Linked DNA regions of Homo sapiens: all the other regions are linked to region 2. Evidence: fine-mapped QTL for protein levels in blood plasma. A gene starts in region 2. Each other region holds a variant in brackets. All regions are shown on one strand. Distances are from middle to middle.

What was found. PIP is the posterior inclusion probability: the model's chance that the variant is causal. Protein levels are from antibody-based Olink assays in UK Biobank. Linkage for the fine-mapping came from a reference panel and not from the study's own genotypes, which makes the PIPs less certain.
Region 1: its variant is fine-mapped to the plasma level of the ROBO1 protein (UK Biobank, PIP above 0.99).
Region 3: its variant is fine-mapped to the plasma level of the ROBO1 protein (UK Biobank, PIP above 0.99).
Region 4: its variant is fine-mapped to the plasma level of the ROBO1 protein (UK Biobank, PIP above 0.99).
Region 5: its variant is fine-mapped to the plasma level of the ROBO1 protein (UK Biobank, PIP 0.95).
Region 6: its variant is fine-mapped to the plasma level of the ROBO1 protein (UK Biobank, PIP 0.95).
Region 7: its variant is fine-mapped to the plasma level of the ROBO1 protein (UK Biobank, PIP above 0.99).

Annotation. Positions count from the first base shown.
Region 1 is chr3:79,427,531-79,431,600 of GRCh38, forward strand. The region is part of intron 2 of ROBO1 (roundabout guidance receptor 1); the gene reads right to left. It overlaps LOC101927374 (a long non-coding RNA gene), which reads left to right. Exons shown (of 3, transcript NR_110133.1): 2 at 1,078-1,205. Among named protein-coding and RNA genes, the nearest start is that of MIR3923, 78 kb to the right of the region's middle. The variant G/A (reference allele first, on the strand shown) is at 1,916.
Region 2 is chr3:79,765,901-79,769,970 of GRCh38, forward strand. It overlaps ROBO1 (roundabout guidance receptor 1), which reads right to left and starts at 2,098. Exons shown (of 31, transcript NM_002941.4): 1 at 1,852-2,098.
Region 3 is chr3:79,017,383-79,021,452 of GRCh38, forward strand. The region is part of intron 3 of ROBO1 (roundabout guidance receptor 1); the gene reads right to left. Among named protein-coding and RNA genes, the nearest start is that of MIR3923, 490 kb to the right of the region's middle. The variant T/C (reference allele first, on the strand shown) is at 2,403.
Region 4 is chr3:78,736,165-78,740,234 of GRCh38, forward strand. All of the region lies in intron 5 of ROBO1 (roundabout guidance receptor 1), which reads right to left. Among named protein-coding and RNA genes, the nearest start is that of LINC02077, 690 kb to the left of the region's middle. The variant G/T (reference allele first, on the strand shown) is at 1,986.
Region 5 is chr3:79,504,680-79,508,749 of GRCh38, forward strand. The region is part of intron 2 of ROBO1 (roundabout guidance receptor 1); the gene reads right to left. It overlaps MIR3923 (microRNA 3923), which reads left to right and starts at 3,208; the gene lies at 3,208-3,290. The variant G/A (reference allele first, on the strand shown) is at 2,340.
Region 6 is chr3:79,297,424-79,301,493 of GRCh38, forward strand. All of the region lies in intron 2 of ROBO1 (roundabout guidance receptor 1), which reads right to left. Among named protein-coding and RNA genes, the nearest start is that of MIR3923, 210 kb to the right of the region's middle. The variant A/C (reference allele first, on the strand shown) is at 2,472.
Region 7 is chr3:79,010,237-79,014,306 of GRCh38, forward strand. The region is part of intron 3 of ROBO1 (roundabout guidance receptor 1); the gene reads right to left. Among named protein-coding and RNA genes, the nearest start is that of MIR3923, 500 kb to the right of the region's middle. The variant T/G (reference allele first, on the strand shown) is at 1,834.

The sequences.
Region 1 (4,070 bases), 340 kb before region 2:
TTTTTGAGTTTCAATTTCCTCATTTTAAAAATGGAGATGCTTTGGCACTGGCATAAAGTCAGACATAGACCAGTGGAACAGAATAGAGAACCCTGAAATAACTCCATACATCTACAGTGAACTCATTTTTGACAAAGGTGCCAAGAACATACATCGGGGACAGGACAGTCTCTTCAATAAGTGGTGTTGGGAAAACTGGATTTCCGTATGCATAAGAATGAAACTAGACTGGTATCTCTCACCACATACAAAAATCACATCAAAATGGATTAAACATTTAAATTTAACACTTCAAACTATGAAACTACTAAAAGAAAACAATGGGGAAACTCCCCAGGACATTGGACTGGGCAAAGATTTCTTGAGTAATACCCCATGATCACGGGCAACCAAGCAAAAATGGACAAATGGGATCATATGAAGTTAAAAAGCTTCTGCACAGCAGAGGAAACAAGCAACAAAATGAAAAGACAACCCATAGAATGAGAGAAAATATTTGCAAACTACTCATCTGATAAGGGATTAATAACCAGAATATATGAGGAATTTATAAGGAGCTCAAACAACTCTATAGGAAAGCATCTAATAATCTGATTAAAAAATGGGCAAAATATCTAAATAGCCATTTATCAAAAAAGACATATAAGTGGCAAACAGGTATATAAAAAGGTGTCCAATAGAGGTATCAGAGATACCAATAGAGGTATCAAAATATCTCATGTAACTTATACACACCTACTATGTACCCACAAAAATTAAAAAGAAATATTAATAAAATGTATAAAAATAAATAAAATGGAGATTCTAGTGTTAGCATCTACCTTATGCATTCTTTTGATAATACAATAAATTAAAAATATGTTGAGTGCTTAGCACAGTGCCTGTGACATGGGAGGTGCTGAAAAGATTCTCAACAATATAGTTATCATTTCAATTATTGCACCCATTGTTATCATCCTCATTATTATTTGGCAGTATATTCTCTGGTATATTTTTAGCGGGAATGCAAAATGCTAAAGCCAGCATACTAAAACAATGTACCAGTTTCTTATGAAGTTTCCTTATTTGTTATCATAGACTCAGCAATTCTGCTCTTAGAAGTTTTACCCAAGAGAAAAGGAAAACACATGCCCACATGAAGAGTGTTTATATCAGCTTTATTCATAATCACCTCCACCTGGTAACAACCAATTGTCCACCGAATGGTGAGTAGATGAGAAAATTGTGGTACCAACATACAGTGGAATATTAAAAAATAATTTTAAGAAATAAATATTCATACATGCAACACCATGGATGGATTTCAAATACTCTATGTTAAGTGAAAAAAAAAATCAGAAAGAAAAAGCTACTGATTGAAAAATGTAATTGATATGATGTTTTAGAAAAGGCCAAGTTATAAGAACAGAAACCTGATCAAAGTTTGCTAGGAGAATGGACTACAAAGGGACATAAAGGAACCTTTGGGGATGACGGAAATATTACGTGTCTTAATTATGGTGGTGGTTACATCACTTTATGTATTTTCTAAAATTCATAGAAATGTACAGCTATAAAGAGTAACTTTTACTGTATGTAAATTGTATCTAGATAACCTGACTTGAAAGATGAAACTAGAAATACGTGCATATCAAGTCACTATGGAGGAATATGTGAAAATACGAACAAGTTACCCTCCAAGGGCCATACATACACTCCTTTGAACAAAACTTAAGCTATGATTGGAGTTGCTGGTTCATCCTAAAGCATTATGTCAGAATCCAGTTACATCCACAAAGTTCATGGGTATTCCTGAGATGTTGCTTTTTGAGCTGGACCGTAAAGCCAGGAAAACGTGGAAGTAAATATTCAAGATCCAGGGTCCACAAGTCTTCAGTTTTGCTCAAAGTCTGACCCTCTCTCACACTCAGGTTCC[G/A]GGTCAGCAAATACAACTCATGAGGATGGGCCCACAAACACGCAAAGCCTAATCCAGGTTATAGAGTTATTAACAGGAATCAGTTCAGTGGAGTGAAGGGACAAAAAACAAAATAAACAAACAAACAACCTGATTAACTGGCACTGAGCTAAACAAGAAAGCTCCTGGCAGCAAGTGAAGAAACACCCTGTTGGCTCTAAATTCTTAAGCTATTCAGGTTTGAAGCCAGATAATTTTGTTGTAGTAGTAATCCAAAGACAATCAATTTTTATGTCTGACACGTCTTTGAACTGGCTACTCCATATCCCACCAATTAAGTCTTCTTATTGAATAATGCCCATTAGTTTCTTTACCTTTTTATTTGAAAATTCTGTTTACAAGCAAGTAGCAAACTATAGAGCAGTCTTTTGATTTAATTGGTTCTTATTTTATTTTTTCTTCTTAAATATAAGATATGTCTGATTATTATTATTATACAATAGATGCTCTCATATTTGCTATTATAAATTGTCTGAATTGTTATACCTTCTTCTTTCCAACTAACTTTTCTCTCTCTCCTTTTTTAACTTTTTTATTGTATTTGGTTTTCAAATTTAGCCATAGTCTAACATTTATGATACAATTTTAAAATTGATGATTATAATTTTTAAGGATTGAAAATGTTTTATAATTTTACAAAATAAATAAAAATTAAAGACTTTAACTAAATCAACTTGTTAAGGTACTATAGGCCATGCAAGTTACAAAAACTGGTCTTTTGAAATATCTTAAACATGTAAGTGTAAGCAATATTTATAATTCGTAAATTTTCAGAAATTAAGTTCAATAAAAATAATACTTTACTCTGCTTAATTCATGTTTAATTTGTCCAACTCAATATAATTTAATTTCAAACATTTATAAGGATGCAGACAACCTATGCCAACAAATGAGTAAACAAATCAAAAATTCTTTGGAAGTCCTGAAGGACTATAGCCACTTTTTAAACTTAAATTGATTTCATTTTTGAGAAAATGATGTTTCTCTCAATTGATTAGACCCCTAAGAAATGAACGGTTGGGCCACCCTACCATATAGAAAGCCCCAAATAGCTGAAGTGCTAATTGGGAACAAAAGGAGCACAGAAGGAATGCTAGAGTTGTACAAAAGAATCACAACTTAGTGAATGGTTGCAGAAATGAAAGGCTGTAGAGTCCCATAGTTTTTTCCTTTCTTGGCCTTGAATGTATTTGTGTATAGTAACCAATTTCCATTTTTCCTCTTGTTCCTGTTCTCTACATTTTTTGAAGATTTTACAGAATGACAAATTGGGATTGCAACTGAATGAGAAAAGCTTGAATACATCCCAATGTCTTATTCAGTTAAAATGAGATTATAATCAAATAAGTTATTGATGGGATTTTGAATTTCCATTTTTGGGAAGAGAATGAAGACATTGTGTATGATTTAGTGCATTATGTTAGACTGGACCAAATTTTTATTGTTATTGTTGTATTTGGAAGTATAAGTATTTGTAGTAGGATGTAAATGGATGTTTACATGAAAGTTCTGGATATGAATAGGTTCTGCCAGGTAGGTGTAATTGCATGAACTTTGAAGGGCAAAAGGAGGTAGTGGTTATTATTCTGCTGTTGTGGGTATTACAAAAACAGAGTAGAGATCAGTGTTGGCTGACCCCTGTACTGCATATGTCAGTGTCTTGTCACCAGCAACTTGGCATGAGGGCCAGTTGCGTTAGAGACAGAGCACCAGTTTCCTAATGTACTACAACTAGTATCATATACAAATGTCTTCATGCTGTTTCCCAAAATGGAAACTGAAAATCCCATCAATAACTTATTTGGTTATAATCCCATTATAATCCCATTATAACCAAATGAGACTTTGGGATGTATATACCAACTACAGTGGTGATCTTCATTCCCACCGTGCAAGTGGTCCCCCAAGTTTCTTGGCTGCAGTCCCTCCAGCAAGTTTGTAAAGTACTGTATTCCATGTATACCATCCCTTTCCCCTAAAATAACACTAGTATCTTCTGTTTTCTCCGGTTATCCCTGACTGCGATACCATGGTAATGCAGACTTTTCAAAAGAGAATAAAAGGTGGAAATTAGACAGATTCAGAAGACAAAAACATGGTACAGAAAAAAAGTACA
Region 2 (4,070 bases):
CTTGGAAACAGACAACCATCTCTTAACAGGCCTCTGTAACACACAGCTTGATGAAAATCACTTACACAGGGCAGATGACACAGAGGAGTTTACAAGGTCGGGGCACTCCTTGGCGGGGCGTGAAAGGGTGGGAGGTGCTGAGGTCAGGGTTAAACTACCCTGTGAAATGAGCCTCCTGCCCTGCCCTTTCCTCCCTTCATCTATAGAAGGAGCCTCCAGTGAGTTCCTGCGTCTGGAAATCTGCCCCCTTTAGTGCCGCAGACAGGCCAGGGACAGCATTTCAAAGCTCCTCTAAATCAATCCACTTAAAAGAGCCCAGAAAAGCCTGACCATTGACCATAATTGCCCTAAATTGCTTGTTTTCCTTCCCCTCTTGCAGCCTCATCAACATTTCCCTTCTTTCCCCCTTCGTGTCCTTTTTTCTTGGGGGCGCAGGTCCTCTAGATGCTTGGGGTGCACACTAAGGATATTTGAGTAGTGGGAGCTCCGACTCGAGGCAGGAGTGGGATGTCTTAGCATTCCGTCTCCCCCACCCCACCCATCTGCGTGGGACACAGTGACTCCTAGAAGGGTATCCCAGGATTTTAGCGGCCAGGTGTGAGCGCCCTCCACGCGGTCCTCCGAGACCTCAGGGCGCGTGGCAACTGGGCAGAAGCCGTCTCTGCAGCGCCGCTGCCCCGGGTGGAGCGGCAGCCCAGGCTGCAGCAGTGGGGTTGCCACGCCGAGTTTTCCGCATCGGCCGCCCGCAGGGCTCGCCTGCTTCTCCCCATTGTGTTCTCAGAGCTGTGGGACCCAGCCGCGCGCGCAGCCGCACCCGCGCCAACGCTGGAACCGAAGGCTCATGGAAGCGGGGCTGGCAAGATGGGGCAGGGAGAAGGAGCAAGAAGGGGCCCCAGAAGGGCACGGCGTTTCATCAATAATGCAGAGGCTCCTGGACCTCCCTGCAATACGTTTTCCAGCTAAACGCCACCAACTGGAGCGCTTCCTGGTTCGTCCCACTCGTGTGGTTTTTGTGTGTGAAAGATGGGACGCACCTTTTTCATTCATCTGTCTTCTCTCATTCTTCCTCCTTCCCTCCCTCATTTCCTCCCTCAAAGTCCCCGCTGGCTTAGCTTTAAGCTCTCGTCTTCACATCAGCACCATGTTTTCAAGCAAAATCCTGCAGGTTGGAAATGCAAGTGTCAAAAGTCCCCACTGCCTACATACCGCCAAGAGTTTACCAAAATCCACCTAGTAACGCTTATTTTCAAAGCCCCCACGCGCATCCATTCCTGGAGAATGCTTTCAAAGTTTGGAAGCTCCCTGCAGCCTGCCCGTGTCTATGCCTCAGTCAGCTCACATCACGAACAACGGTGCGGTCAGCGGCACTGAGATTAGGCTGCAAAGTTGCCCGGCCCCAGCCCACTACACCGCTGATGCTCGCCGCATCCCTAGAGCAAATTCCGCTGTGTGCCCCCAAGAAGCCAAAAGCGGCACGAAACCTACTCCAACAAGGGTTAGCCCAGCCACACACACAACAAACAAATTCCAAAACTTCTTTGTTAAGCAGCCGCAGCCTACCTGGAACGGACACTCTGCACAACTGGCAAGGAAGAAACAAACATCGCATCCCTGCAGGAAAACTTGTTGAATCCCTCCCGATCGCAAGGCTGCAATTTCCGATTTAGCCTGAAGGTTTTTGATTCTACCCCAAAACACCCTGGCGCATCAGCCACAATTTCTGGATAAACTGCAGAGTCCTCTCGGCAACCATTCTGCACTCCAACAACCACTAGTGTAAAACCCAGCGTGTCCCCTTTTACAAATCAAAAGCCAGCTGTCACTTCCCTTGCAACCATTTCCGAGACTTACCCTTCCATAAGACTGTTTTCAGCAATCTAGAGGCTCCGTAGTGCAGACGCAGCCCTGCAACTTTGCTGTGCACTGAGACCTTTCCGAGTTTAAACCAAGCGAAAGGTGACAGACTTTTAAACCTAAGAGTGGGGAAATAGGGAGAGAGTGAAGTCGGGTTTCTTCTCTGTATCAGCACCCTGGAAAAATTCAATCCTTCTTCAGTAGAGAATTCTTTCAAACCCGTTATCTGTATTACTATTAATGCGCAGAGCAGAAGGCATTGCATACAAATAGGTCCAAGTGTGCGCTTCTATTGGTGGCTGCGGAGGCCCCTGGGTCCTACTGCTCCGGTCTAAACTACACAGCAACACTAGGCACGCAGCTTTGGAGACGCCGAGGGGAAAATGGATTTAATTGATTCGTTACCTCTGGTATTGTAATGCCTGCTGCGATGTTTAACCGAGGGGGGAGGAAAAAAAAAAAAAAAAACCCTTACATTTAACTCCTGTCATGTGATCTATCATTCCATAGCTGCTTTTAATTGTCTGTGTGGAGTGGCTTTGATCATACAAAGGATTTTAAAAGAACATTTTCGAAGGAAAATTCACACAGACACTTTTGGCAGGAAAACCCTCTTTTGCTCTCTATTATGCATTATTCTCATATAAATCCAGGAAATTTTATATAATCAAATACTTCTGCACTTCACGTAGGTACACACAACACCCAATTGTATTTACAATTCATAGCTACTACAAATAAAATACCTTACATGGGTAGTAGATAGTAGAAGCTAAAATATGAGTCTACCAATTATAAAACACGGGTTATATTAGTCAAATGCTACAGAAAAAATTCCATCAATGACAATGGCGTCAGCATCATTTTTACTTCGCAAAATTAGAAATTCAAAAATATTTTCCTTGTAAATATTGACATAAAGATATAAATCAACATAAAGGTATTATAATGTCACAGTATGTCAAGCATTTACTATTAATTGCTACATTATCTTTTTACAGTTTCTCTCTTAGCAAGTTCATTAGTAATGCAAATTGGCATAACAAGGAGATTTAAAGTGAGGCCGACCTGTGGTGACTAGCAATTTGAAATATTGTAATAGTGTGCAAAATCACTTTAGTTCATCATCGGTAAAGCCAGTTATTTTAAGAATTAGAATATTAAATGCTGAATCTTAATATATATTAATTTGAAGTCTTAAACATGCTGTTTTCTTTGACCTTTAATTTTGTGGAGGAAAAGAGAAATCCTTATTTAAACTAAAATGACATAGACTTTCCACAAAATCCTAGATACGATATTTACTGATATTATAATTTAGGAAGTAACATAATTTTATTGTCTTTGATGTAAATAATTGTGATAAATTCCAATTTAATTACAAAATTATTACATATATGTAATGTACAACTGAATGAACATTGTTGGAAAGGGCCACTCTGGATAAGGTTAACATCAACCAACCTATAAATTCACTACCTATGTGTAAACTAAATAAATGAAAACACAATGCAAAAATACAACAGACTCGAGATCTTATTCCAAATACATGTAAAGCATTTGAATTTATGTAGTGTGTGCTACAATCCCTCTTCATTTCCGTAACTCTTTCCCTTTACAGCCCCTTCCCTTCCCCCAATCAGTAACCCTTGACAACAGAAGTGTTAACTTCAAGTCCAGGTTGCCTTTGCTGCCTTCCAGACCTAACTTACAGATTGCATCCTTGTAGGAAACAGAGTTAACTCTTACACGACTGAGAGGTGAAAGAAGAGAGTTTCTTTCAGGGATTAGAAAATCCAGTATTTTTATGTGTATTTGCAAAGTTTGCACCAAACACATATTTTTAAAAATATCCATGATCACTAATTCAGAGTGAAAAGATGTGATCATTGGCATTGTATCAGAGTCAATTTGCTGTATATATCCATTGCTATTGTGTCACTGAAATAGCTTTTGAATAACTTTTATTCAGGGTTACTTCAATCACTTTACTTCAGGTTAATAATTTCTCCATTTACAATAGAGTTAAAATGAAAATACCAAAGTGTTGCAATATTCAGTATAAGGGTATAAAGGACTTTTTTTTAATCTGTAAAAGAAAAGAAAAGCTATTATTTCATATAGTAAGAAAAGCATAATGACCATGCAAAGTTGAATAAAGATGACTGACATTCATCTTATTTCTAAAACAAGTAAATTATTGGTGTTTCAACTTC
Region 3 (4,070 bases), 750 kb before region 2:
TTACCGATAAGCCCTGATGCAATTTGAAGCTCAGTATGCGAATGTGACTATAAAAATTCCGAGGTGCAGTGTGTGTGTGTGTGTGTGTGTGTGTGTGTGTGTGTGTGTGTGTTTTAAAGCCTGAAATCGGATCCGTGATTGAAACCAGAATCTACCAAAAGGAAAGAAACAGAAGTTGAGTCGTGGCTCAGTTCACCCACAGTAAAAAAGTTTCCTAGGGAGTGTATGAAAACTATTTACAAGTGTAGATACAGTGTGTACTCTTATGTCAGAAGGGCCCCGTTTCAGCATCCTTCCAACACTTCATATGGAATTTCAGTATTATTTAATTAATCCTAAACATCCCAAATTCAGTTTTCTTTCGCCAATGAGAATCCCCAGGCAACTCCCCTTTCCGATGCTTGCAACCGCCTGTTTTCCTTCTAAACCCAGCGAGGCAGTGGCTATTTTATATCCTACCTTAAGAAGGAGTTATTTCGTGAAGCTTCTTCAGAATCAAATTTAATTACAGACTTTGGTTACATAAAACAACTACTAATAACCCCTTGTGCTCGGAAGAGGAGGGGCTAGAGAGGACTAGGCTCAGGAATCCTGGCAAGCCTGCGGGCCACAAGCTCCCAGGGCGCACATTTCCCTCCCCAGGGAAGCAGCCGGCGGCTGATACTCACTTCGGCTCATCCTGGGGGCCCTAGCTCACTGCCAGCCGCTGCCTCCTCCCACCCTAGTGCTTAGACGTGCGTTTGCCCAGAGTAATCTGGGCGTGCCCTGAACTTGGCAAAAGGCCGAGATCTGCAAAGAGTCTTGAGGAGGTTCAGGGGTGGAGGGGAGGTTTTGGGGAGTGGGGAAAAAGAGACAACCCCAAATGCGAACTAGGAACATTTTCGCCTAAAAGTCTAGCAGGAATCGAGCCCCTCCGGCCTTAGGAGGGAGGGGTAACCAAAATACACTTCTGGGTTTGATCGTGCAAAGTGGAGAGGGGGCGAACAGGGAGGATCAAGGGTGAAGAAAGAAGACGCGGGGTTACCTGAACAGAGACATATTAATCCAAACAGGTAAAAGTGAGCGGGCTCCGCAATCATTGTCCTCGGGTGGATCCTGTATACAGTCTCATGCCAAGAGGAGGGAGTGGAAATAGGGTCCCCAAATGTATGAAGCCACACACCACACACAAAGGCTTAATATAAGCAACGTGGGTCAATTAGCCAAGAGTTTTCAGGGCAATTACTCGTCGACCTTTCCGGACGCTTGTCAGTATCTCAGAGACTTTTGCAGAGGAAGAATTCCAAGGTTTGTCTTCTCCGGCCCCAGGATTTCCGAGGAGGCTCAGACACTTTCAAGAACCATCCAAAGCGAACAACAAAGAGCCGAGGCAGAAGCGCAGTAGTGCCGTTTCCTGCCTCCACGGTCTTGCGGAGCCTCCCGGCGTGCGCCCCCACAATGTGCGGCCGAGCGCCGCTGCGAGGGCAGGCGCGGCGGCGGCGGCAAAGTTGGGGTGTGAGAGCTGCTGAGGGAGGGCCAAAAAGTGCTTCTCCGTCTCCCGGCGAGCCCAGTCAGCAGCGGGCCACCCGCGGCGGCGGCGATAGCAGCCAAAGTAGAAGCAGCAGCTCCGGAGGAAGGGCTCGGGGTGCCGGGAGTGTGACTGGGTGACTCCGCGCGCAGAGAGCGAGCGAGGGGGCGGTGCGGCGACAGCGGCTGCCTGGGCGGGCCCTTGTTCCCATCACTTGGGGGATGCGGAGGGTACTGGAGACAGCAGCAGGACCGCGGACACTCGCACGTCTTCTGGGCGCCCCCAGCCCCGCGCGGCGCCCAACATCGCCCTCGGCCCCTCGCCCTCTGGGGCGCTCGCAGGCACCCCTAAACTACGCAGAAGCCCAAACTTCCTGGGGGCAGCTGCCTGCACCCCTGGCTCGTGGAAGCTGTAAAGAGGCAGCTCCCGGCTCTCCCCGGGGTGGCAGAGAAGGGCAGAGAGGATGCTGCTGCGGGTGGGAGAGACGGCCGCCGCGGCTCACCCCAGCTCCTCCCGGATCAGCGGCGTCTGAAGTTTCTGCTCTCACGCTGCCTCCTCTCCAGCTCAATTGCTTGTGGGTTTCCCCCACAGTCCCCGCGGCTCCCAGTTCCCTCCCTCTCCTCCCCGGCCCGATAATACTTAAAGGGGCCGCGTGGTCCTTTCCATGCTTCACTCTATTCTCCAGGCGCTGGTCAGGCAAGTTCTGCTCCTCAATATTTCCATCCACAAGCCAGGGGTGCCCAACTGCGCCCTCAGGTGAGAATCCAATTGCTCGGAATCGGAAATCCAGGCGAATGAGAAACTGTCTTGTTTCTCTCGCCACCCCTAGCTCCCCTGCACCTTTCTCCAAATGGAACCTCCCAGCCAAAGACTTCAAAAATCCTCCTGGTCCAAC[T/C]TAACCTCTTCCTTGCCGCTTCCAGGAATTGGAATAAACTCTCAACTCCACTCTCACTTCTCCCCATTCCCATTTAAAAAAAAAAAATCAATTTTGAGCAACATGGCTTTAGGACAGGAGGTAAACAGAGAACTATCCAGAACATATCAGTAGATGGGCAGTCTCTTACAACCATCCTTTTCTTTTAAGTTGCAGTTGTTGAAGGTCTTGTAGAAAAGATATCCAAATCATAAGGCACAGGGTTGGGCCTTGGGATCATTTCCTCATGTTTCAGTTGAAACTCTCTCTTTCAACTTCATACTCCACACATTAGAAAGCTAACAATGGGGATGTAATTTTAAGAGAGAGAGAAACAAATGCAAAAAACAATCTTGACAAGCCCAGAGTTTGCAGTTAGGAGAAGCTAGTCAGGCATAGGTTTGACACTCAGTATACCCGCCCTGAAATCCCAACCTGCCAGTTATAGCTCTGTGACCAGGTCTGTTTTCTCTTCTCTGTTTCTGTTCTCGAGATATTTTATTGCATTAACAAAAAATACACAAAGCAAAACAAACCTGACACGTCTGAAAGGCATTCATTCATTGAGTCAGTCATTTTTCTTTCTTTCTTTTAAATAGGACACAGTGGCCAGGCGCTGTGGCTCACACCTGTAATCTCAGCACTTTGGGAGGCCCAAGCGGGCGGATCATTTAAGGTCTGGAGTTCGAGACCAGCCTGACCAATATGGTGAAACCCCGTCTCTACTAAAAATTCAAAAATTAGCCGGGCGTGGTGGCGTTCGCCTGTAGCCCCAGCTGCTCGGGAGGCTAAGACAGAAGAATTGCTTGAGCCCAGGAGGCGGAGGTTGCAGTGAGCCGAGATAACTTGCCACTGCACTCCAGCCTGGGCGACAGAGCGAGACTCCGTCTTAAATAAATAAATAAATAAATAAAAAGACACACTATGTGAAATACCTAACATGCCGAATGCTGAATAAATGGCAGAATTAATATCTACAGAGTTGTGTACCATAACTTCAAAAAAAATTATTTGGTGTCTAGCAGTACATGTAAGAAGCTGCTTTCGGTGGTTGCCTCTGGAGGACAGAACTGCGCAATGGATAGGGCAGAGAAGGAGGATTTGCTCTTTTCTACATAGTGTTGTGCTTTTCCATGTCTTTTCAGGTGAGCACATTCATTACCTAATGGAAGATAAAAATTTAAAAGCAAATTGTACATTGATTTTGGTTGCTGCTGGTGCAACCAACGACCTTAGAGCGACATTTTGTGGAAACTCTGGTTAACAGCACCTATCTTTGAAAGTGAAAGATAGTCTAATCCTGAGAAAACTGACTATAAATTCAGTAAACAGCCTGGAGATAAGAATTCAAAGACTCCAACCAAAATCTTTTCAGCAGTAAAAATATGAATGGGCAGTCAAAGCTGAAAAGCATACATCGATTTGGTCTTGCTAAAGGATATTTAGTGAAAAACATAGAATATATCTCTTTTTTCTTGGAATACAAAATACTTTTAAGAGAAGCTTACCTAGTAATAGAAAACAAACACTAAAGTGTAGTACTTGAGAGAAAGAGAGCAAGATAGAGAGAAAATTCAAATCCTCATATCATTTGAATGTACGTTAAATAAAGATGTCAAACTTTCACTTAGTAATGGGGGTATACTTTTA
Region 4 (4,070 bases), 1.0 Mb before region 2:
GTGGAAATAAAATTAACAAAATCATATATATTCAAATTAGCAACTTTTCATTCCTGAGTACCCTAAAAGACTAAATTTCTGACTTATATTTCATTCATTTAACACTTTTTCGAACACATGAGCTTCGAACATAAGACAGACATGAGGAATACAGGTGGACTTTCATATGTTTTATGTGTATTAGATAAGTAATATATAAATCATAATTTAGAATAGATTATAAGAGAAGTACTTGGTAAAAGGAAAACAAACAGATAACAGGAAGAAGAAATCTAGTGTGGGTATTTGGGTGGGATTTTGCTGATGGCTCCTCTGAGGAAGTTGTCTTTGAGATCTGAAAAATGAGTGTGTTAGACAAAGTGGGTAGAAGAACAGAACATTACAGATAGAAAACCACATGCCAAGACTCTCATATATCGGTATACCAAGCTGTTGGCATGCAAGCTTTCAAATGCACATGTAACATATGAATAGTGAAAAGACAGAGCAAGAACCCAATGCTCACTGAAATTATCTTTTTAATTGTATTGTCATCTAAACTAATTTGTGTGCCAGAACTGAGAATGCTTTAGTTTACTGCAATCCTTTCAAAAGAGTGCTTGGACTTCACAGGTAGGTGTAAAATGCTTGGCTTTCTTTTTTCTAGTTTCAGGGTCCAAACATGATAAGTGTATGTGTAATTATTTAAATAAAATTGCAAGTGTGTGGAAAGTTTCAGGATGTTCCTTGAGAAGAGAAACCAGCCTTTCTTAACCAGTACTTTGCATCTGAATCACATAATTTCTCAATTCCCCTAAGGATAATACGTAACTAGAACTGTTCTCGATGCATGGGAAAGAAGTTGATTCATTACACATGGTGGGTACCTTTAGGGCATTAGGACAGAATTCTCCTGTGGAATAACCAGTTGATGATAGCATTGCCCAATAAAGGTACACATAGAACTTGAATCAGTTTCTTAATTTCAGTGTTAGTCTAAACACTTTACTTACTCATAATGTTCACCCAAAATACCCCTAGTGATTCTGTGGCAACTGAAAATTCTCACAGTGGTGAATCAGATATAGATAGAAGTACAGGCAGAGGAGATAGAAAGCTGGATCTTCGTTCACATACATTTATATCATCTTCTTGCTTCTTGAAGAAAATTGGAATTGTTATGGCATGAGTAGTTTTGGATTTTCCTTTTCCATCAAGATTTAGATGACTAAATATATTCAGAGTTCAAATAGGTATACTAACAACAATAATAAAGAGAACACCATTACTAATAGGTATTAAGTGTGTCACCATTTACAATGACATTTAACATGCATTTTCTCGCTGAATTCCCTCAACGACACACTGAACTAATCTAGGTATGATTAGACAATTCATTTCACAGATGGAAACAATGAAATGTATAGAGATCAAATGTCTTCCATAAGATCAGGCATTTAATAGGTGTTGAAACCTGAAATTATAATGTGGTCTTATAATGCCCAAGCCTATGCTTTGTTCTACTAATCCCCAGTGTTTCAATTATTAAATATAAAAATTAAGATAGACAGGAAAAATTATTTTTAAGTCATTTATTCAATCCAATGACTGGTACAATAAAGTTGTGTTGACTTACCATATTTAAATCCCAAATAGAAAATTTATTTTGGAAAATAAATAGAATACATAATATGCATTGACACTTTATGTAAGATGAACCCCAAAAAAATCTATTTCAGGTTTACTACTCAGGTTTCCTTTGACCTTCACACAACAGAGCTATGTATTTATTTTGCAGAAACAGAAATTTAACTTCTTAGGGAAAAGGGGCTTTATGACATCAGCTGTATTAAGTATGTTAATTTCCTCTAGGGGAGAGGAGGGGAAGAGGAAGCAAAAGACATTGAACAATGAAAGAAATTGGAAGAGCAGACGAAAGCACTAATCGAAGGAAGGGAGGAGAAGCAGATGGCGTAGGAAGGAGACATGTGGGAATTGGGAGGAAA[G/T]GAAGCAATTGGCAAGGAGTGGGCTGAATGCCAAATTTGTGAAGGATCTGAAGGGCACTGGGGATTTGGATGGGATGTGAGTCAGCTGCTTTTTACCAAAATATCACACCAACAATGGAAATCAAAGAAACCTACAAAGACACACAGGAAGCAGAAAAGGACTAGGAAAAGACCTGATGACATACTCCATTCTAATAATTTTACCTCGTCAGCATGGGAATGGGAAGCGTTAAATAGTTATTTTTGGTTTATTGGTTTTGTTTTGTTTTTTACTGCATAACTAAATTGTTCTCCTATCTTCATTATGGATTTTCAAAACTTTAACTTGCTTTTGAAAGAAATGATACAGATAAAACCCTTCTATATATTTTAGCTATTTTTTACTTACCTTATATAAATGTGATTTGTTATTCACTATCACTCATACACAAAACAATTCGTTTAAACCATCTAGGATTACAGTGACCAACTGTCCCCATTTTCCCAGACCTGAGAGATTTCCTGGGAATAGAATTCTCATTTCTAACACCAGGACCATCCTGGGCAAACCAGAATGGTTGGTTTTCCTAGGTAAGGTAAAAATCTTAAGAAAAAACTACTAAATATACTTGTTCATTATGCTAAAGCATACTGATGCTGTAAATTTTTTTTCTACCTTTTGCAAAGAAGAATGGATAAAATCTTAATTCAGCTATGCAATAAGTAGATGAAATGAAAAAAATAGTTACTGATTGGATAACAGCTTTGATGAAAATAAATATCTTACAAACAAATTCTTTCCCCATCATCTAAATTATTTTTTCAATCAAGTAAAAACAGTTGTAGACATAGAGAATATTTGTGGCATGCTACTGTAAGGACAGTAGGAAGAAGAATAAACAACTCAGCATAACTTATCTCAAGGAATAATATAAGTCATTCAAAAATGCTTAAGTCACAAAGGCTCATATCAGCTCAGAATTTGAAGCATGAAAAGATGAGTGTCTTTTAAGCTCTTCTTCTTAATAAAATGAAATAATTCGGGATAAATGATCGACAAAGGTTATCATGAAGAAAATATTTTTGAAATTTCAGAATTGAGTCTAGGCAGAGCTTAATATTTATACTGTGTTGCTAATGTGTTAGTTTTTACTGTATTTTATTATATCTATACAAAATTCCCCAGTCACTACATTAATAATATTTTACTTAACTCAATTTTTCATTTGTTATATAATATCTCATAATTGCTTACTTTTTTCAACAATAACTTTTGAAATGTGTGCAGCTAATGATATTAGAACCTGGCTAACTCACAATTTGGACTGATAACTACAAAGCATATTCAGTTGAATAACTTACTGATTTATAATATCCTTTTCAACATAAATCCTTCTTTTCCTAAGTGGCAAATGATGACAGTTAATTGTTTTCTTTAGATAACCTCTACTATCTTTTTAGGTAAGACTTCTAGTCTTCAGAATAAATAATTTTAGGTTGTCTGAGCTATAATATTTGGCCAAATTTGACCATTTCTGTGTCATCTTTTAAAAAACTACTCAATTTTTCAAATTTAAAAACCTTTGTTATGTTATAGATTTCAATACTGAACATAATATGGACTAGTTCTTGAACATGCCAAACCCCGGTTTCAAGACCACCACAACTTCCATTCTGTGAACTAATCTCTCCAAATCATTGAACATTAAAAACAGTACTTCATAATGGAAACTAAGAGATACTGTCATCCTGAGTCAAAATTTGCACTGATAGCATAGCAGAGTTGTTATATATGTTGCAGAATCTATAGGACCCTATAAAAAATGTTATGAGTCAAAAAAATGCAAGTGCCCCCTTGGTTGCCCTCTCTTCCCTAACCAGCCAATTTAGATGTAGTGACTGCATTAGCAGAATTTTTAGTATGTAACTGACAAGATTGTTGGCAGGATTAAATGGGTGAATATACATAAAGTGCTTGTAATAGGACCTGGCACACAGCAAGTGCTATAATAAGTGCTTACTATTATCATCATCATCATCATCTCCTTCTTCTTCACCTTCTTCATAAGACTAAATTGACAAGTATAAGTGTACCCTAATGTAAAG
Region 5 (4,070 bases), 260 kb before region 2:
GTGTATTGGAATGGAAAATGCAAATTTTGTATTTCATGCTATCTCCCCAATTTGTTTGATTTTTTTCTTACTGCCTAGTTAACAGGCAGATATCCATAACTGCAACAATTTTACCAGTAATACATAATGTTTCACAAAAAGGAGAAGCCATAGTTGGGCATATGTGTGTGTATCTTTCTATGTGTGTCTGTGTGTGTGTGTATGTATGCGGAGATACTTAGTAGAGCATCTGAAGTTCTGGCATAATTTTCTTCATTCAATAAGGCAAATAGTTATATGATTGTAATAGAAGGTATATCCCATTTTGCAGCTCTTAAAATACTTTATAGATGCTAAGAATACCTCCCTGAAAAAAAAAAACTTTTTGAATATTCAATCCCTTAACAATTATGTTCTTACTTATATTAAAATGAATTCCTGTATAATTTATCATGGAGGTGAAACTGGTGTGAATTTGCCGCATTGGAAGACAGCATTAACTGAAGAATTCAGCTCTAAACAAAGACATTTTAATTTATTAAACTTCTTTCTATATATTTTTTTTTTCTTAAATTGACTTTCTACTTCTGTTCAGACCATTTTCAGTCTTCCAGCGAAGAAAAAAAAAGAGACAAAGAAAAGTAAGAGGAAGCAGGTTGAGGAAGGATAGAGAGAGAAAGAGAAAGAGATTTCATCTCTTGTAAATTGCCAAATTGCGACAATGATATAAGAAAGACACAGCTTAGATCGAACAAAGCAGAAGTCTAAAACTAAATGTCATGCTGTCAGAGTTCAGGAAAGCAAGGTATATGTTCTCCAAAGCTCAGCAGGCAGGATGAACTTTTTCCTGATTTAAGGACCATGCTGAGAGAGAAGAAGAGAGGAGTCTATTTTAGCATCTGAAAACCAATGATTTGGAGAGAAAGAGGACATGGCTGCCTAATACCAGGGAAAGCTTACAATACTTTGCAGTAACGATCATTGGCTTGACAGTCTCTCCACTACAGACGAGGTGTAAGAAGGACAATAAAGATGAAGAGCAAACGTAGATTACTGTCTTGTAGGGTAGGTAATACAGGCAGACAAATAATGATAACATAAGGTAGACTGTTGCAAGCAATGTATACAGTGGTAGGTTTACAGAGCAGTGAAGTTATTACAGTTGTAATTTTAAGATTTAGCTTCAGGGAAGAATTAATAGGTGAGGTATGCTTTGAATGATGGGTATGATAGACATGGGTAAGGGAGAATTACAGGCCATGACCACAGTGTATGTAGATGCACAGAGGGATGATCCTATCAGTGGCATTTGTGGAAGAGCAACTAACTGAAGTAAACCAAAATACTAACTATATTAAGAGGGTTAATGTTAAGCCTGGACTGGAAATACACCTAGACAACATCTTATCTGAATGAATAAAGAATCTGCATTTTATTAAATTGAAAGAGAGATCACAGGTTTATTTATTTATTATTATTATATTAATTATTTTTAATATGGCAAGTGTTTTGAGATTTTATGATGAGAAATATGCTTTACAAAAAAAGCCTTTCGTAGCAGTGAGGAATAACTGAAATAGATAGTAAGTGGAGGCAGCAATATCAATTAGAAGATTTTTAAGGATATGAATGTCAAATCGTAAGATGCCTAACCAGCAACGGGGTGAATAGAAGTAAGAGATAATGAAATGACAAATAATTAGAATTTATCTGTTTATTGAAGTAGGAACAGAAAAAGTTACTCATCAGATGCCAACAGTAAGTTTCAAAGAAAAGAAATAGAAAAACAATGAGATGAAGCAATTTTTTTTTTTTGAGATGGAGTCTCACTCTGTTGCCAGGCTGGAAGGATCTCGGCTCTCTGCAACCTCCACCTCCCGGGTTCAAGTAATTCTCCTGCCTCAGCCTCCTGCATAGCTGGGACTACAGGCATGCACCACCACGCCCAGCTAATTTTTGTACTTTTAGTAGAGACAGGGTTTCACCATGTTGGCCAGGATGGTCTCGATCTCCTGACCTCGTGATCCACCCGCCTTGGCCTCCCAAAGTGCTGGGATTACAGGCGTGAGTCACTGTGCCCGGCTGAGACAAAGCAATTTTTAAAACAAGTGGATGAATTTGGTGTTAAGTATGTTGAGTTTCAAGTGTCATAAAAGCATATGTGCAACTTACATATTAGGTATGTGAAAGGTTTAAACTGGCAAGTAGGAAAGAGTGTGAATTTGTTATCCATTAACCAAATATCCAAACCCCAATGGAAAGATTACAGAGTTCATAGGAGGTTACTGGAAGGCAATTTGTGTCAGGTTACAACACACTGCCAGTGCTTTATGCAGCCACATCACCTAGATTCTGGAAGT[G/A]TCAGTTGCCCAATCAATCAACATACATAATAGAGCTCCTCTTGAGCCCTGGCACTGTTTTACATAAGGGGATCAAACCTGATGATAGATCATGATTCCTATTATAATGCTTAGAGCACATTAGCCGGTTTATTAAAAGCAGGAGAGTGAGGAGCATGATGATGTACAAAACAAGAACTACATCCCTTGTGACCTAATAGGACAGCTACGAAGAGGGTTCTTTGATAAAAATGTAGACCACAAATAAATGCCTACCAAGGTGTCTACACACTCTGAGAACAACTCTATGTGAGTCCCCGGTATACACAAACTATCGGGACCATTAGAAATAAATGGGGGCAGGGGTTTTTGTTCACTGACTTTCCTCTCTATTGAAATAGCTGAAGAGCAGTACTGCAACTTACTACAACAAAAGGCCATATCAAGAGGATGCAAATTTTTTGTGGAGGTTCTTCAGAGCCTTTCAGTAATCTTTCCAAGCATGCTTTCCTTTGTTTTGGGAATGAGAAGTGTAGAAGAGGTTTTTGGTGGTCCTTCTATGCACTTTGCCATTTTATTGTATTGTTCATCATAAAGAATAATTGATCTCTTAATTTTCTAATTTTGCAAGTCTGTGTATATCCACATTTTACTTGGAAACAACATGGGTGTGTTTCTGTGGTATATGCTGGCGGTGTCATGGACTCACCAGGCTTTAATTTTTCTTCACAATATAACATTTAGCAACATTCAGGAAGGTATCCATGATTTTGTGGGCTGAATGGTCCCTTCAAAATTCATATGTTGAAGTCCTAATATTCGGAACCTCAGAATATTACTGTGTTTGGGTATCAGGTGTTGAAAGAGATAATTAGGCTAATATAAGTCTGGTAGAGTGAGCTCTAATCCAATATTACTAGCTTCTTTATAAGAAGAGGAAACTAGTAATGTTGGATTAGGGCTCACTCTACTATTCTCAGCAAAATATCAGCAAAATATCACAAGGACAGGAAACCAAACAATGCATGTTCTCATTCATAAGTGGGAGTTGAACGATGAGAACACATGGACACAGGGAGGGGAACATCACACACTGGGGCCTGTTGGGGGGTGGGGAGCTTGGGGAGGAATAGCATTAGGACAAATACCTAATGTAAATGACGAGTTGATGGGTACAGCAAACCAACGTGGCACATGTACACCTATGTAACAAACCTGCACGTTGTGCACATGTACCCTAGAACTTAAAGTATAATAATAAAAATCAAAAAGAAGAGGAGATTAGGACAGAGGCAAACACAAAAGGAAGACCATGTGAAAACCCATGGAAGAAGATAGCTATCTACAAACCAAACAGTGAGGCCAGAGAAGAAACCAATCCTGCCTAAACGTTGATCTCAAACTTCTAGCCTCGAAAATTGTAAGAAAACAAATTTCTTTGGCTTAAAACCCTCAATCTGTGGTGCTTTGTTATGGCAGACCTAGCAAACTAATACACTCAGTAACAAAGATCTTTGAACTACCATTGCTCAATAGAATGCAAGCAATTTCATTAACACTTTTTTATTGCTTAAATAAAAGCAATTTCCACCAAAAACCTTATGGCTTTTCATTCCCCCAAAAAGGAATTCTCAGAAATTACGTTTGATTAAAATTTGTGTTAGTATTGTAAAACAGAATGCAGGATCTGGCATCCGTTTTCTAATTATCTCTGAGAAAAAATCAAAAATATAAATGAAGCAATTAGAGTCT
Region 6 (4,070 bases), 470 kb before region 2:
AACACAATTCTTTGTTATTATGATCTCTAGTGGGCATATGCTCAGTAAGTATCATGGTATGTAACCAGATCTTGCTACATTGTCTATCTGACTTGTGACTCACACAAAAACTCCCTCTTTTGCAGCAACTGGAGTTCTGGGGAACAGCTGCTGATCTCACTCTGAAATTAAAAACATTTGAGTTGTTTTGATTTATGTTAGCTCCCATGGGAAGAAAGAAATGAAAAATGGATGCTTCGTGTAAACAAAATACCATTTCTCCAAACTGTAAAAAGAAATTGTTCTAAATATTCTGACATATTTCTTTTATTGAAATATGGTGAGATCATGTCACTACTATATTGTTAGATGGGAAGATGTCTAACAGTATTCTAATAAGCCAACTGCTAGGATTTTCTTTTAATAAATACTATTCTGGAGGTACAACTTTACCATATCACCTCTGAAATTCAAATCTATGTAATATAGCATCATGTTGTCATGGAATGCAACTAGCAATGAAGATCATTAAAGTGATACACTCTTTTGAAAGCCCAAGCAAAGGAGTTTCTCTTTTCTAAAGAGAAAGTTCAATGTCTGGGACTTTAATGTTTCACTATATGTGAAATAATTTGATCAGGAATTAGTGAAATAGAGAAATACTATTCTCAAAGTGATAATGAATTGACTATATATTTTTGTGATATGGATTTAAAAAAAAATATCAGTTTCTTTTATATACCTCTGGGTAGAGAGAGGCAGGTTCTTTTATGGTTAGAATTCTCTTAGGATCTTGTGAAAACAGATTATGAAGAGCAATCTATAACCAGGCCAGCGGGCATGATTGATTGGCAACATACGAACAAAAAGTCTTTGGGTTTAAAGGTACGTTTCTCTCCTCCTCCACGTAGCTCATTGTACACTCTTTACTGCATTTTTTTTTCTTTTTAAAAATGGTCTGTAACCCTGGTGAGCTTGTGAGGGATCAAATACATTATAGATGATAATATGCCTCCCCTCAGGAGGCAGGGTTTAAGAAGTCAGATTTTTTCAGTAGTCCTTGCTGTCTGTTTCTCTATTTTATGGTCCCTTTGAAAAGACTGAACCATTCTTTTTAGCAACTAGTAATGAAATATTACTTTAACATAGGGATAGAATTTCTTTTTCTTATTTTGGGGATGTTCTGAAACAGAATGCCAGATTATCCTGAAACTTCTTTTAAAACAGTTGTAAATTCACCAGTCCATAAAGTTGTTTTGGGTTTATTTTAATGGGTGCAAAGTAGAAAAACCAAGTTTTAAATAATTTAAAATTAAGATATTACAAGTACAAGTTCTTCATGTAAACAGATACTCAATTATTTTTAATAACTAGAAAAATAATTTGGATTTTATTTATATTACTGAAGGAATTTACTAATTGAGTAATCTAGGAAGGAGTTCATTATTTTCCATTTTCAACTTTTTTGAAGGAGAAAATTACAGGTTAAATCCTGTCACTGCCAAAATGTCTGCATACTACAAAGATTTCAAACACATTTAATATAATGAAAATTTAATGGTTGCATAGGATATGAACAGTTCCTTTGAGATCATTGTATTGAGAATACTTCTATGTTTAAATCAAACAAATATAATAAATACACACTTCCAAAAAAGCTAAATACTTTTTTGGCACAATTGAACCTTCTATTTCTGTGCATGATGACAACATGGAAGGTCATTTGAGGTAACATAGTTGTATTCTTTTTATCATGAAAAATGCCTAACATGAGGTATATTGAAGTTTACATCGCATTTAGCATAGACCAGTATTTCAAATAATTTCTAAAAATAAAATTTAGAGAAAAGAGCATGAGCTTTGGGGTTATACAGACATAGTTTGAATCCTGGCTGCAACATTAACTAGAGTGTAATGTTCAGTAAATTAAATCTCTGGTCTCCAAATTCTTCACCAGGAAAGGGATTAACATGTGGCTTATTGGGAACTATGAAGATATTCAAAGTCAAGTCAGCAACTTGACTGAATTCCTGACAAATGTTGAAGGTGGCTAGTGTCATTTTCGTTTATTATATAAATAAGCTATGCATGCTGTAATATATGCTCTTGCAGATGTACTAATAAATGTTAACAATTAATACTATTAACGTTGCTTGCTTGATATGAGATTTGAAAATAAAGATATTATATAAAGTGTTTGCCAATAATATATTCATTTTGGAGGAAATATTCTGCCTGAGATAAAATAATAATTTTTAATTGAGATAATTTATGAGAAAACAAGACTTTTTAAAGCGTGTGTTGATGAAATCTTTCCAATTCAATGAAATCCATCGAAAAGTTGAAGGGAGAGTTTAGAATTGAAAATAAAAATAGTGAAGTGTAGTTAATTAACCAAGGAATGAAAATGAAAAGTTGTTTTAAATATCAACTCAAGAAACACTAAAAAAAAAAAAAATTGGCTCCAGAAAGTCTACTAAATTCTCTTAAAG[A/C]TATTCAAACTTTCAGAATATTAACGATATAAAAAAGGAAATAGAATCAAAGTAATACCTGTGAAATACTTATTTAATACCTGAAATATTAAATAAATATTTCATTTTGAAATGAGATAAATGCCTTACCAAGAATATGTAGTACTGAGAGGTGACAGCGTGCTGGCAGCCCTCAGCCCTCGCTCGCTCTGGGCATCTCCTCTGCCTGGGCTCCCACTTTGGCGGCACTTGAGGAGCCCCTCAGCCCACCGCTGCAGTGTGGGAGCCCCTTCCTGGGCTGGCCAAGGCCGAGCCGGCTCCCTCAGCTAGCAGGGAGGTGTGGGGGGAGAGGCGTGAGCGGGAACTGCGGCTGCGCTCGGCGCTTGCGGGCCAGCTGGAGTTCCGGGTGGGCGTGGGCTTGGCGGGTCCTGCACTTGGAGCAGCCCGCCGGCCCTGCCGGCCCCAGGCAATGAGGGGCTTAGCACCCAGGCCAGCAGCTGCGGAGCGTGTACTGGGTCCCCCAGCAGTGCCGGCCCACCGGCGCTGCGCTCGATTTCTCACTGGGCGTTAGCTGCCTTCCCGCGGGGCAGGGCTCGGGACCTGCAGCCCGCCATGCCTGAGCCTCCCACCCCCTCCGTGGGCTCCTGTGCGGCCCCAGCCTCCCCACTGAGCGCTGACCCCCGCTCCATGGCGCCCAGTCCCATCGACCACCCAAGGGCTGGGGCGTGCAGGCGCACTGCAGTGGGACTGGCAGGCAGCTCCACCTGCAGCCGGTGGGATCCACTGGGTGAAGCCAGCTGGGCTCCTGAGTCTGGTGGGGAGGTGGAGAACCTTTATGTCTAGCTCAGGGATTGTAAATACACCAATCGGCACTCTGTATCTAGCTCAAGGTTTGTAAACACACCAATCAGCACCCTGTGTCTAGCTCAGGGTTTGTGAATGCACCAATCGACACTCTGTAGCTACTCAGGTGGGGCCTTGGAGAACCTTTATGTCACACTCTGTATCTAGCTAATCTGTTGGGGAGGTGGAGAACCTTTGTGTCTAGCTCAGGGATTGTAAACGCACCAATCAGCGCCCTGTCAAAACACACCACTGGGCTCTACCAATCAGCAAGATGTGGGTGGGGCCAGATAAGTGAATAAAAGCAGGCTGCCCGAGCCAGCAGTGGCAACCCTCTCGGGTCACCTTCCACGCTGTGGAAGCTTTGTTCTTTCGCTCTTTGCAATAAATGTTGCTACTGCTCACTCTTTGGGTCCACGCTGCTTTTATGAGCTTTAACACTCATCGCAAAGGTCTGCAGCTTCACTCCTGAGCCAGCGAGACCACGAACCCACCAGAAGAAAAAAACTCCGCAAACATCCGAACATCAGAAAGAACAAACTCCAGAGCGCCACCTTAAGAGCTGACCGCGAGAGTCCGCGACTTCTTTCTTGAAGTCAGTGAGACCAAGAACCCACCAATTCCGCACACAGTACTGTGAAATGTGACTGAGTATATAGATTTTCAATTTATAAACTGTGTGTTTTACAGACCACCTCCTATGAAAAGACATATGCTCATTCTTTCCTTTAAGTAATTCCTTTATGTTAAGCAATGCCCCTTATTTGTAACAATTTG
Region 7 (4,070 bases), 760 kb before region 2:
AGTATAGTGTGTTTGTAGAATTGTGAAAAGCAAGAATTCTGAGATGAGACAGGCTACTTTTATGTCCTCACTCTACTACTTTGACTGGCCATAGTTAAAGAGCTTAACTTGTTGAACCTCATTTTTCATACTGACAGACAGGGCTAATAACAACACATTCATTTCTAATATGATTGTTTTAAGTATTAAATAAGATAAGGCATGTTAGCACTTTGTCAAGCAGATAACAACACTCTGTAACTTTTAGGCATTATCAGTATTACCATTATTATTAGAGATATTATTGATTCCTAGTGTTTCAGGTTCCGTGTATACAACTGGGCCTATACTACTACATCGATCATCATTTAATAAGTCACTTGGGTTTTTTCATCATGTAAACACATATATTTATTTATCTATATCTACATATAGACTCCTAAAAAGCAATGAGCTCTTAAGATTCAATGACCTATGACAGGAGAAAAGATCAAATACCACAATGAGTTTCTTTTTCTTCATCACCCTACTGAATTTAAATCAAAGCTGTTCTTAGGATGCTTGTGTTCAATCTGAATTCATGGAGATTAATAGCAATGATCTTGTCAGTGAATGCCCCTCCTATTTGCATAGATATCTGAATGAAAGCTTTACGTCTCCCCAGTTTTTCTTCTACAGATTTAGATTTTGGAAATATATTACTAAATTCATTCATTTTAGAAAGTGGTCGTTCTACCAGATTGCTAGGAAATTTTCACTTCTCTTCAGATACAAGGGAAATGAACAGATGAGTTTTATTTTCCACAGCCTGTACAAGATGGTTTACTTTACTCAGACAACTTGCTAATGGAACGGTCTGGATATACTGAAATTACTTCCCAAACCAAGCAACTAAAGAAGTTGAAAGCTACCCAGAGGTATGTGTAGTTAACACATACAAAGGTACTTTAACTCACTTTGTTGTATGAGCAAGGACAATTTTAGTGAAGTTTCAGAGTGACAGGCTTCCTTTTCAATAAAGCCTAAGTATACAAAATCAGCTTTAGAGCTATGCAACTAAAAAGCGGACATGTTCTTGTATAGGAAAGGAATTGCAGATAGATATATTTCTTTAGCCAAATTAAAAGTCCACCATTAGTGAAAAAAGAAAATCACGTGCTAAACAAGAAAATGTAACAGCAGGCAAGTTAAGTTGGAGATCAAATTATGAGACTTAGTGTATCTCATTAGCACTGTGTTGCCAAATGATATTGAAACAGACATTTGTGACCTGATTCATTCATTCTTTGGCTTCATGTTCTTTTCCTACTCTACCTGAAATTGCTAATAACATAAAAGGGCTTCAATCACGTTAGTGCAGAGAAGCTAAAATCTAGCCTTCTACCAAAACCCAGGAATGAACTTAGCAAGTTGGTGTTTTATATATATTTTTTTCATAATGTTTTATATATATTTATATATAAATATATATGTTTTTCATAATATATTATATATATGTTTTCATAATGTTGCATAAATTATGACCATACCTAACATGATCCAAAGACTTTTATGTCATATGAATACTATCTTGTTATGCTCATTGAAATTGTAAGTTAAATCAAGAGATAACATATACCTGAAATGGCTTTTCAAGAACTTACTAGTCATACATAACAATTTTTTTTGCTCTTTTACTTTCTATACAAACTGGGCATACGAACTGTGTTTCAAGCAGAACACTGCAAATAATCTTAGAGGAGAGCTTTGAGGACTCCACGCTCCTTTCATGGCTGACTGTGGACAAGCTGTCCCCAGCTCTCAGGTCCTGTACACATGAGTTGAATTTAGACATACTTTGAACTTGATACTTTC[T/G]GAAATCTAACCAAGAGCATCTTGAGAAAGTGTTTTAACTGTGAGCTGTTATTGCCAGAAGTAGCTTAAAAATGTTTTCTAGTAAACCTTGCTCTACTTAACTGAAAGACTAACATGATTTGAAAAATAGATCCCCAAAATACTGTATTATTAGGAACCAAAACCGACTATTTCCTATATGCTGCATACAAAGCAATCACTTGACACAAAAAGACTATATTCCCACTTAACACAGAACCACACTGCTCTGTTGACATTTGCTTGTATCCTTTGATGGTGCTTTTAACGCTTCATTTAAGTGTCAAACTAGGTGACAAGCATTAAGCCCAGATAGACTATTTAGTCTCATCTTGTGACCCTAGAACATTTTCTACAATTGCTTACCTTCTATCCACTTTCCCCTCAAAATAATATGAATTAATTAAACAAAATAAACAGAATATTATTTTCCGGCTCTAAGCCATGGACAGCTGTGAACGCCACAGAGGTACTTCTCTCTTTGAATAAAGTCAGAAAGATATGCACAGTCATGCTGTTCAAAATATTATTTTATGTGTGGAATAACACTGTCATAAGACATTTGGAAGCCAAGTAAAATCACAGAAGTAAGAGGATTTGTAGCAGCCTGTTTTGGCTGAAGGGAAATGAGGCTGAGCTCTCCCATGAAGCAAGCAACATGACACCTTTCGGTGTTAGAAATAGCCTTTTGGATGGTTAAAAAAGAGAGAGGAAAAAGCAAAGCAGTGGAGATCAAAGCTATCTCCCTGTACACTACAGATCATCTTTTTTTCTTCCTCTTCTTCAACAGCAAGATTGAAGGAAGGGGCTGAAAGTGGAGGGAGAAGGGGAAAGGAAATCATGCTAATCAAGAATTGTAAAGAATGGAGGTAGCCTTTTGATCTCCACAGGATGGCAACTTTATTGGCTATGCATAAGCAGTTTCCAACCAGCTGATCAACCAGGTATTAAGGCTCAACCCTTCCATGATCAGTAACCATGAAGTGAGTTATCTGTGAACAGCAGTCAAGCAGAAGGCTCATCTACTAAATGATCACCAGCCCATACTCAACCCAGAGCCTAAGAGCAACCACAGGGGAAATGATTGTCTCTCCACAGGCTCTTCAGTGAGGAGTACCAATTACTTGCCTTGGGATTCAGAGCAGAGCAAAATCTTTCCTCCAGTGTGCAAGAAGAACAATGCCATTCATTTTCCAAAATACAACTCGAAAGCCACGTGCATCTGCATCACCAGCAGACAATGTTTTGAATCACATTCAGTCTCCTCTTTTAAGCATGCCAGAAAATGCAGATATAATCAAGGCTCAATGTGAACTGGTTAGATGATGTAAAGAACTGACTGTCTTGCCTGGTGATCTAAAAATTAGAGACCATTTTCTTAATGACAGGAAGAATAATGCCTTCCTTCCAAATTCTCAAGTGTTCAAACCACAGTTTCATTTAAGTGGATTTTTTCTGAGACAAGTTTTAAAATAAAAAGTGATTGAACCATAATCTTTTTTATTTAAATTCTTCATTTCTCTCTTTCGACTAGGAAAATGCACAGTAGTTGAGAGTTTTAGAGCCAGCTTGGTTCAAATCCCTGCTGAACCACATTCCCTAACTTCTCTATGATATAGTTTCTACAACAGTAAAATCAGGGCACAGTAATATCTTAGAAATAACAGCATATATGTCATAGGATTTTTATGAGCATTAAATAAGATAATGGTGAGTGTTTAGTAAAGTGATAGTCCTAGCTTCACAGTAAAAGTAGCCATTTTCATGAAGTTTCTTATTGCACCTAGAGTTGGAACTCCATCTCATCTTTTAATTATTTCCTTCTTTCACTTTACTGGTCTCCTTTAAGCAAAAGCGTTACCATACAGAAGGTAACTACTTGGTGTATCAGTCTTCTATATACATTGAGGCAGTCAATATTCTAAAGTCTTATCATATGTAGCTTAAAAAAAAACTGTTCAATTGATTCATGAAAGAGTTAAACATGCTTCAAATTGCTTTTTTTGTTGTTTTAAAACTGCAAACTATCTAGTTCTTTATATAGTTGTTGAATTTAAGAGAATATACACTGACATCATATTTTCAGAAATCCACTTTTTGGACCGGGCACACTGGTTCATCCCTGTAATCCCAGCACTTTGGGAGGCCGAAGCAGGCAGATCACCTGAGGTCAGGAGTTTGAGACCAGCCTGGCCAACACAGTGAAAACCCATCTCTAC